2 separate regions of the Homo sapiens genome follow, and region 2 is linked to region 1. The links come from fine-mapping of genetic effects on gene expression. A gene starts in region 1. The other region holds a variant in brackets. All regions are shown on one strand. Distances are between the middles of the regions.

Region 1 (5,373 bases):
GGGACGGCTCTAGGCTTTGAGGATGCTGGGAGGAAGGGGGCTTCACCTGGGGCACTGGAAGACTGGGCAGGCAGCACGATGGTGTCTCAGGGATGGGCCTCCAGCAATAGGATGGCCTCTGCACAGGTGGTGAGCCCCCCATCCCTGTAGGGTGTACAAGCAGACCGTGGAGACCCACAGCTCCACCCCTTAGCTAGTAAAGACCTTGACTTAATGGGTCAATCTTCTTAGTCACTGCCAAGCCCCTGTTCCATCGGACTGACTTTCACTTGGGTCCTTCAGGGTGATGCACATTGGCATGGCATGAGGCTCACCCAATATCCACTGCCAGCTTCTCCCTGCGTCCCACACTGTCCACTCAGGCCAGGCGGCCCCTTTTCAGGCCACACACACCCCTCACATTTCAGCTCAATTCCTGTCCCTGGAACTACCCTCATCCATGCCGCCCCCCACTCCCCTTCTCTACAGCCTAACCCCCAAACCCAACTCCTCTAAGGCCTGTTAAAGGAAAACATTATTGGAAATTTTCAGAAGTTGTTCCGAACCCTGGAGACGGGTGTGGGGACCACTGCAACGGGATCTTGCAGTGGGGGAGGGAGACCAGGCTCAGCTCCGAACAGCACAGGCAGTGGGGGTTTGCGGCTGAGGAGCAGGTGGGGTCGCGGGTGGCAAATGACTGGGAGGAACACAGTGCGGGACGGGATGCTGGCTCGGCCGACCCCGCAGGGCTTTCGCTGAAGACAGGTCTGGGCCATCAGACATCCTGGGGATGCTGGGGGACCAGGAACCCGATCCAATATCCAGGGTGGGGGGCTCTGGCTAAACCAACTTAGCAGGGCTCTCTGCGAAAACTGAACCTGACAATGCAGTGCACAGATGGGCCTGGGAGGAGGTTAGGAGGCCACCGAAGTCTGGCTGAGCAAGGAATCTTTGGCAAAGTCTAGTTCCAGGACCTGTTGCTCTCTCTCCTTCCCTCCCCTGTTCTTCCTCTCTCCCTCTCTTCCTCCAACCTTCTCCCTCCTCTTACCCCTTTCCTTCTCCTTTCCCTCGCATTTCTGTCACATTCTTTTTTGTTGTTTTTTTCATTACGGTAAAACTTCACAAATTGTTTCCATCTTAACCACATTTCAGTGACGTTAAGCACATTCACGAACTGTGCAGCCATCACCAGCAGCCTCTACAGATCCTTTTCATCTGTCAAGGCTGAAAATCTGTCCCCACTAAACACGAACTCCCCATTTCCCCTTCCCCAGACCCTGATAACCCCCTTCTACTTTCTGTCTCTATGACTTTGACTCCTCTAGGGGCCTCGGCTGAGTGGAATCATGCGGTGTTTGTCTTAGGACTGGCCCGTTTCCCTCGGCAGAGCGTCCTCAATGTTCCTGCGCGTGGCAGCAGGTGTCGGCATTCCCTTCCTTTTAAAGGCTGAGTAATGTTCCACAGTGTGCATGGCCCACATTTGCTTATGCACGTATCCATCGATGGGCAGGGACAGCGGGGGACGCTTCCCTTTTTCATTTATTATAAATAACGCTGCTGTGAACGTGGGGTAAAGACGCCCCTTGGAGCCTCGGCTTTTGGTCCTCTGGGCTTGTGCCCGGAAGGGGAGTGCTGGGCCACGTGGGTGTCCGTGTTTGATTTTCTGGGACCTGCCCCCCCCCGTCTCCCGCCCCGGCTGCCGCGTCTCACTCCCCGCCGCGGTGCGAGGGGCCCCGTGTGCCGCGCACCCTTCCACCCGTGTTTTGCTGTTTTTTTGACTCTGGGCGTCCCAGGGGTGCAGCGGCCGTGGGGCCCTGGTTTGCTTTCACCTCTTCATCTGCTCACTGGCCGCGAGTGTGTCTTCTTCAGACAAACGTCTGAAGGTCAAGCCCTGGGCTCCTGTGAACCCGGCCGTCTTTGCGGCAGAGTCTGAGGCTCCTTCTTTATTCTGGATCCGGCCTCTGGTCGGAGGCGTGCTCTGCAGGCACTGCTCCCATTGCTGGCAGCCTTTTCTCCCCGTGGCCGCCCGGCCGCCCATCAGAGGCGTTGCAGACGCCCGCCCTCGCCAGCGCAAAGACAAACGCCGGTGGCCGCGGACGCGCCGGCGGCCGGGAGCACCCCAGCGGGCGGGCACCACAGAGGCGCGGTCCTCCGGCGTCTAGATCTGCCATGTGGCGCGCGCCGGAAGCGGCTCTGAGGCCGGAAGTGAGCCTAGAGCGCCGCGGCCCCGAGATGAAGCCGGCGGTGGACGAGATGTTCCCCGAGGGCGCCGGGCCCTACGTGGACCTGGACGAGGTGGCACGGGCCCGGCGGGAGTCTCCGAGCGTGGGGAGCGGGGAAGGGGGAGCGGAAGGGCGGCGTCCTGGTGCGCGGGTCCCGGGGAGGGGAGGCCGGGCGGGTGGGCGATGGGCGCGGCTCCCAGGCTCCCTGCCCCGCGGAGAGCAAATCCCGGTTTCTCCGAGCACCTGGTGAAAGGCGGCGACCGACCGCGGCGGGAAGCGTGTGCCCTAGCCCGGGGGACCAGGAGGCGCAGCCTGAGGGTTGAGTGCCTGCTGGGTGCCCCCACGGCCCCCGGGAACACACCCGTGGTCAGAGGAGTTGCGTTTGCTGCTCTTCGATGGCTGCAGCACCCCATGGGGGCCCGCGGTGCGTCTCCATAACCTCGTGTGGGATTTGAGCTCGTGTTAGGGGATTTGGGGGAAGAAAGTGGGCTTTACTGTGCCTTGGAAGCGAGGATAATTCTCCGATTGGGCCTCTTAATCTTAACTAGAATGAGGGAAGACTGGAGCAGCCGTCATTCCTGTCGGAGCGGAAAAGGAGACATCTGGCATTTATGTGCTTTGCGTAGTGGCCTCGTTCTTCTTTTTAATTATACAGGATTATACAGTCGTCTTGGGGTTTTGTTGGTCTCTATTGTGTTCACAGAGTGACCTTGTCTGATGTGAGCGTTCTGAGATGGTTTATGGTCAGCAGGAGAGCACCACAGCCTAGCTCAGAGTGGCAGGCCAGCTCCTACATGTCAGGGCCTTATGTGCTCTTTCTCAAAGCTTAGGGGCTGCAGAGGTGGTCAGAGGCAGCCCTTGTGCTTGTGGAGGTAATAGCATGGCAGAGCGGCTGATTGCAAATACCAGGTGTCATAGAAAGCCGAAGGCGCACCGACGGATGGACCCTCAGGGCTTTGAGGGGGCTCAGCAAAGGTACAGCTGAGGAGTCGACTCTGTGGCCAAATGCTGGGGGACACATTGGTGTTTGCCAGGTAGTGGGGGATGAAGGCCCGGCAGGAGCAGAGCCCTGGGTTGGGGGATGCCGACTGGCTCACCAAGGGAAGGGAATGTTGTGTCGTTTAACATGGTTGAGCGTGCAGTGCCAGAGAGAGGGGAGACAGTGGGTAGGGACTCTCTCCCTACCCAGATCGTGAAACCATCTGGAACCATGCTAAAGAGGGTGGCTCTGTGCACCCCGCTCCCGAAGCACTTCCATTAAACCCAGGCTTCTCAGTCCTGTTTTACAGTCCTAGGCTTCACAGTCCTAGGCGATGTGGAGCCACCGGAGGGCTTTACAGTGGGGAGTGAGAGGCTCCGACTTGCTCTGTAGGGTGGCAGCATTTACGGGTGAGAGGGTAGAAAAATGAGAGCAGGGAGAACAGGAGAGTTGAAGAGGGTGTGAATGAGGCAGATGGAGGTAGGGACAAGCTTCAAGTGGTAGAATGCGCGTGGCTTACTGTGCTGATGGGGACAGGGAGGGTGGCTGAGAAGCCAGGGGAGGAGACTGAGTGTCCTGGCTTTTCTGAGAGTGTCTGAAAGGGAACAAGGGCATGCAGCTATGTGGGGATCAGGGCAGGTCTGAGCAAGCGGCCTTGTGAATGCTGGGGCCAGGGCAGCAGCAGGACCTGTGGCCAGCTGTCCAGGGTGCTGCTGTCAGAGGAATCTGCTCCCTCTGTCACCGGTTGACTCTAAACAGGACCCAAAATCCTGAGGGCTTCAGATTGCCCAGCTTGGGTTGTGACATGGTTTTTCCACTGCCGTGGAGTTGTGGCAGTGGACGGTCCATGATAGCAGCGGGGCACCAGAACCTCAGAGGCAGAGCAGGTCAGTTTCCTCGGGGAAGTGGTTTCATTCCCAGAAGAGAGAGGGAAGGGATCCTGAGTGGAGGCGATGGGCTCAATTTCGCATGTTTGTGGCCTCTGGCGATGTCCGGCGAGGGATCGGAAAGCTCTCCTTGAGGGGCACAGAGAAGTAGTGGTGCTTAGGTCAGTGGTAGGTTTCTTTTTTAAAGGCAGACAGGAATCAAGGAACAGAAGCCCTTGAGAGACCTTAAAAATCATTCCTTTGAATTCCTCCCCCTCCCCCCAATACACATTCCTGTGTCTGGAACTAAAATGTTGACTCCAACTTGAGCCTGTTTCCCCTCACCCATCTTCTTTTTTTGTGGGGGTAGTGGCCCTGCAATGCACTTATCACCTGTTCTTTCGGAAAACGCACCTGACATAACCTTGCCTTTCCATTCCCCAGGCGGGAGGCAGCACCGGGCTCTTGATGGACTTGGCAGCCAATGAAAAGGCCGTTCATGCAGACTTTTTTAACGGTAAGGATGCTTGGAATGGGATGCCAGATTTAATCTGAATATTTCTTCTCTAGGTGAAGGCAGTGAAGCAACTTGGTGACATGAATAATTTGGATCATAAGGTGGTAGAGCCCCTGCGCTCCTCTCAGAATGCAGTGCAGCCTCTGTGGAGCGATGACACGGGCTGCGGCCACTGGCAGGCAGCCTTATTTTTCAGGAGAAAAGTAGCATGAAATTGTTCCCAGCTTGCAGCCCAGTAGTTGAGTTTGAGCTCTGGCATGCGTGTTACATGTGCCTGCGGACACCTCAGACTGTAGCCAGGTCTGGGCCCTCACCCCACACACGGCCATAGGAACCCCATCTGTCTCCCTGTCTCCGCCCTCTCCGGGTAGCCGGTTTCCTTTCCTCTCCCAGCCCACCTGTGTTTGCCTGCCTGGGTTCTCATGCCCTCAGCTGCCTTTGCAGAGGGACAGCCATACTCCAGCTCTTGCCCAGCTCTGAAATCAGGACGCAGGATGTGTTTTCCTCTTGATTTAAGGGCTTCAGTGCTAGTTACCAAAAACATGGGTAAACCAAATGAACAGTGAAAAGCAAATTTTCTGTAACATCTTCAGACCTGCTAGAGGGAATATTTCTCATTCTCTTCTGATTTCTTCAGGCCTTATTCCTATAGATGATATTAACCTTTACTAAGGGTTCAAATAATAAGTAAATAAGATAGGTTTCTTACTCCAGAGAGTGAGGTGGCATTTTTCATCCTGGTTTAATCCATGGTGCTTTTCTCTACAGAAAGCTCTTGTTACTAGTTAACAGCTAGGACCTGAGCTTGCC
Region 2 (5,373 bases), 95 kb after region 1:
AAGGGATCAAGCTGACTTGGGGTCAGGAATTTAGAGCCTGCCTCTCAGTGGGTTGAGCAGGAGAGGGCATCGGGCTTGGGTTTGGCTTGCTCCCAGTGAAGCCTGGTGGTGCCTTGGCCACATGCATGCCTGTTCATCCACAGCTCTTCATCCACGGCCCTTCATCCACGGCTTTTCATTCACAACTTTTCTTCAACAGCTCTTCCCCCACGGCTCATCCACGGCTCTTCACCCATGGCCCTTCATCCACGGCTCTTCACCCATGGCCCTTCATCCACGGCTCTTCACCCACGGCCCTTCATCCACGGCTCTTCACCCATGTCCCTTCACCCACGGCTCTTCACCCATGTCCCTTCATCCACGGCTCTTCACCCACAGTCCTTCATCCATGCCTCTTCACCCACGGCCCTTCGTCCATGCCTCTTCACCCACGGCCCTTCGTCCATGCCTCTTCACCCACGGCCCTTCGTCCATGCCTCTTCACCCACGGCCCTTCGTCCATGCCTCTTCACCCACGGCCCTTCCTCCATGCCTCTTCACCCACGGCCCTTCCTCCATGCCTCTTCACCCACGGCCCTTCCTCCATGCCTCTTCACCCACGGCCCTTCCTCCATGCCTCTTCACCCACGGCCCTTCCTCCATGCCTCTTCACCCACGGCCCTTCGTCCATGCCTCTTCACCCACGGCCCTTCGTCCATGCCTCTTCACCCACGGCCCTTCGTCCATGCCTCTTCACCCACGGCCCTTCGTCCATGCCTCTTCACCCACGGCCCTTCCTCCATGCCTCTTCACCCACGGCCCTTCCTCCATGCCTCTTCACCCACGGCCCTTCGTCCATGCCTCTTCACCCACGGCCCTTCGTCCATGCCTCTTCACCCACGGCCCTTCGTCCATGCCTCTTCACCCACGGCCCTTCCTCCATGCCTCTTCACCCACGGCCCTTCGTCCATGCCTCTTCACCCACGGCCCTTCCTCCATGCCTCTTCACCCACGGCCCTTCGTCCATGCCTCTTCACCCACGGCCCTTCGTCCATGCCTCTTCACCCACGGCCCTTCGTCCATGCCTCTTCACCCACGGCCCTTCGTCCATGCCTCTTCATCCACGTCTCTTCACCCACGGCCCTTCATCCATGCCTCTTCATCCAAGTCTCTTCATCTACGCCTCTTCAGCCACAGCTCTTGCCTGGTGGGCTTCTCACAGCAGGGCAATGTCTTGCTGCTGTCTGCCAGGGCCACCTTCAACACCTGTCTTCTTGTTTCTAACATGTACTTTCTAATAATCTCTTACTAAGTCTATCTTTATCAACTCTGGCATCCATTCAGTCCTCTGCACATTTTTGAACCAGAGACAACCAAGAAAAGCTTCTTCAGCTCATACTGTAAGCTTCAGCCCACTCTAGAATTGGCCTTGTGAGTCTGGTTTTAATATAGAAACTGTTTTGTAGTCAGTCGTGCATCCTCAGGCTGCACAGGGCCCTGAAGCCCACTCCTCCTCTGGACCAGACAGTTCCCTGCTGGCTCCCAGGCGCCCAGGTCTGCTCTCACTCGCCAGGGGAAGGGACACTCGGACCCCTGGGAACCCAGTTGGCTTGGAGCAGCTGTCTGGGCAGGAAGGTTGCACAGCGGTGCTTCAGCCACCACTGTACGTCCCAACACTGGGAAATGATGAAGGTCTAAAATCTGCCTGTATCTGTATCTGAGTTATGGAAAAGTTGCTTTTCCTCTTCTGTACTCATTCTGACTGAGTTTGGATCCATTTGCAGAGCCTGTGTCCACCCCATTAAAACCCACTTGTCTCTTCCACATCTGCCAACCCCTAGGCTGCTGCTGGACACCCACGTTGTTGCACAGAAGCACCACTGTCCACTGACTGTCCACCTCCAGCTCATGTCCTTTCCAGAGTCCACTGCTCTCCTCTAAGTCTCTGGCGCCCTCTCAGTTGGTACAGAGTGAGCGCTGAGACTTCCTGCCATCCACAGTCAGGACCTCCCTCCTGGGTCTCCTGGGTGTCATGACCTTGGGTTTGCCTCCTTCATGTGCATTTGATCATCTGGGTCTCCACCCCGACTTGGCCTGCTGAGTCAGACCCCATGTCCCTGCCTTATTTGGAGGAAGGGCTCTAGGCC[G/A]GGTAGCCAGCCCAGGGACCCAGGCACAGGCTCAGAGTGATGCTACTGGTGCCATTCTCAGGGCTGTGGAGAGCTGATTTTCCTCCCCGGGCAGCTGGGCTGGGACATGGTTTGTCTCCTGTTAAATTACTCCATCTTCTCTGTCCATACCCTTCTCTGGTCACAACCAACTGAGTCATTCATTCATTTACTCATTTATTCATCTAAGCACCTACTATGTGCCAGACACTAATCTAGGCACTCAAGGTAAATGATGAACAAAATCGACAAAAATCTCAGTCCTCATACAGTTTACAATCTATTAGATGAGAGAGAAATACACAAAATAAATAGGTAAAATACTCAGAATGGTATTCAGGCATACATGCTAAGGAAAAAAAAATATATCAGCTCTAGTCAGCTGAAAAATGGCCCCAAAATATAGGTCTATGTCAAATCTCTGGAACCTGTGAATACAACTTTATTTGGAAAAAGGGTCTTTGCAGATGTAACTAAATTAAGGATCTGGAGATGGGGAGATCAGTGTGGATTATCCAGGTGGGCCCTAAATGCATTGATGAGCATCCTTATAAGAGACACATGGGGGGGAATTCCAGTTCTTTAATGATGGCATAGAAGCTGGCTTCTCCACCTGCCCCTGCCCCCATACAGAATGAACAACAAATACATAGCACCAAGAGTATCACCGGCAATACCCAAGAACTCAAATATGAGGAGGAAAAAGATCGTGCAACCACAGAAAAGTGAAAAAAACTCCAAGCCGACAGTAAGAGAATTGGACTTCCATATTCACGACATCCCTCTCCCCAAAACTGCCCAGCACAAAGGACACGGAAAATGTCCCCCTGACTCACAGTTTCTACGCTGGAAAAAGTGAGATTGAGGTGGACAACCAGCTTCCTCACTCTCTTAGGTTTCCTGGCAGGAGATCTGTCCCAGCCTCAACCCACAGGAAGTGCTGCTAGCACTGCTAGCACTGCTAGCACCTGAAGGGAAAAACAGCCTTAAGGCCAGCAGAGACAAAGCGGGAAGGTAGGACTACCAACCCCAGCTCTGGAGACTCTGTTCTGTAACTCAGCCAAAGAAGATGTCAAATCAGTGTGGCAGTTCAGCAGCACCATGCTGTAGGAGGTTTGTTCCACACCTTCCCTGGGCACAAACTGTGAGCCAGCCTTCCCACACTACCAGGATATTCCCTCTGGGGCCTCCCTCATTTGGGATGGTTGGCACTCTGACTGTTTACTAGAGCTGAGGCAAACCTGGGCTTAAGGAATCATCTAGTGTTGAAAAGAAAGCAGCAACATAGTGAGGTGGCAGGGAGGGAAGAAAGAAAATCAATAGATAAATTACAAGGAGTCTCTAAGCAAACAAATCTAATAAAAGCCAAACAAGCCAGACAGAGAAGACTGGAATAAATAATTAACCCTTCAGTGAAAAACTATAGATGCACATCTATGGGAGACAACAGCAAACAGAAAACATGACCTCCTTAAATGGACAAAGCAAGGATCCAGTGACAGACCCCAACAAGACAGTGATATGTGAACTCTCTGAACAACAATGCAAAATTGCAGTTTTAAGGAAACTCAGTGATCTCCAAGATAACACAGAAAAACAATTCAGAAATGTATCAGAGAAATGTAACCAAGAGATTGAAACAATAAAAAAACAAACAAACAGAAATCTTGGAACTGAGAAATACTTTTGCTGAACTGAAAAATTCATTAGGGCCTCACAAGAGATGAATGGATTAAGGAGAGGAAAGAATCAGTGAGCTTGAAGACAGGTTATTTGAAAACACTGAGTCAGAGGAGAAAAAAGAAAACAATGAATAAAAAGGAATGAAGATCACCCAATACCAGATACAGAAAATTACTTCAAAAACCTGAACCTAAGAATTATTGATGTTCAAGAAGGAGTTGAGCAAGGGCAAGGAATAGAAAACTTATTCAAAGAAATAATAACAGAAAACGTCCCAAAACTAGAGAAAGAGATAAACACCTAGGTACAAGAAAGTCTAAGAACACCAAACATAATCAACCCAAATAAGACTGTGCCAAGGCATATAATAATCAAACTCTCAAAGGTCAAGGACAAAGAGAGGATCCTAAAAGTAGCAAGAGAAAAAAAGCAAATAATTTATAAAGGAATTCCAATTTGTCTGGCAACAGACTTCTCAACAGAAATCATACAAGTCAGGAGCAAGTGGGATAACATTTTCTAAGTGCTAAAAGAAAAAAAAAAGGTCAGTCAAGAATACTGTATGCAGCAAAGATATCCTTCAAATATAAAGGGGAGATAAAGTCTTTACCAGACAAACAAAAGCTGAGAGAATTCGCCACCATCAGACCTATCCTACAAGAAACGCTAAAGGTAGTTCTTCAATCCAAAAGAAAAAAACATTACTGTGCAGAAAGAAAGCACGTGAAGGTATAGACCTCACTGGTAAAATTAAATACATGGACAAATCCAGAATACTATAATACTGTAATTGCGGTGTGCAATGCATTCATAACTTGAGTATGAGGCCCAAAAGACAGCTCTATCAAAAACAGTAATACCCACAGTGACTTGTTAAGAGATAGGCAATATAAAAATCTGTAAATTGAAACAACATAAAGTTAAAATGTGGAGGGGGATGGAGTTAGTGTAGAGGGTTTTCATTTTTCCTTTGTTTGTTTCTATTCTTTGTGACATAAGTCTTCATCTCTTTAAAATAATAAAACATCCAATATCTATAAGATATTTTTGTAGCTTCATGGTAACCACAATGCAAAAGTTTATAAGAGATTCACTAAAAATTAAAAAAGCAATAAATTAAACATACTACCAGAGAAAATCACTTAGCCACAAAGGAAGACATTAAAAAAAAAAAAAAAACGAAAATGGGAGTTACAAAACACCTAGAAAACAAGTAACAAAATGGCAGTAGTAAGTCTCTACTTATCAATAATAACATGGAATGTAAATGCACTCAATTTTCCAATTACAAGGCACAGAATGGCCAAATAGATGAGGAAACAAGATTAAACCATATGCTGCTTACAAGAAACTGACTTCATCTATAAAGACACAAACTGAAAGTCAAGGGTTGGAAAAAGATATTTGATGCAACTAGAAACAAACAAATATCAGTAGTAGCCATACTTAGATAACATAGGCTACAAATAAAAGACTGTAAAAAGAGACAAACAATGTTACTATATAATGATAAAGAGGTCAATTCAGAAAGAGGATATAACAAGTT

Which allele goes with the higher level. Positions count from the first base shown, and alleles are read on the strand shown. Sizes are in standard deviations (SD) of each study's normalised expression.
In carriers of allele G in region 2, the expression in sun-exposed skin of the gene that starts at base 2,191 in region 1 tends to be lower than with A alone (small effect, 0.13 SD a copy in GTEx).

Evidence for each region. PIP is the estimated chance that this variant, and not a neighbour inherited with it, causes the effect. A credible set is the group of variants that fine-mapping cannot tell apart.
Region 2: its variant is the best candidate, but not a certain one, in a credible set for the expression of COPS9 in sun-exposed skin (GTEx, PIP 0.80).

The regions. Positions count from the first base shown.
Region 1 is chr2:240,133,123-240,138,495 of GRCh38, reverse strand. It overlaps COPS9 (COP9 signalosome subunit 9), which reads left to right and starts at 2,191. Exons shown (of 3, transcript NM_001163424.2): 1 at 2,191-2,274; 2 at 4,491-4,563. The coding sequence starts at 2,212. RefSeq lists enhancers at 1,670-1,779, 1,790-1,889 and a silencer at 2,330-2,379.
Region 2 is chr2:240,037,731-240,043,103 of GRCh38, reverse strand. No RefSeq gene overlaps it. Among named protein-coding and RNA genes, the nearest start is that of OR6B2, 10 kb to the right of the region's middle. The variant G/A (reference allele first, on the strand shown) is at 2,127.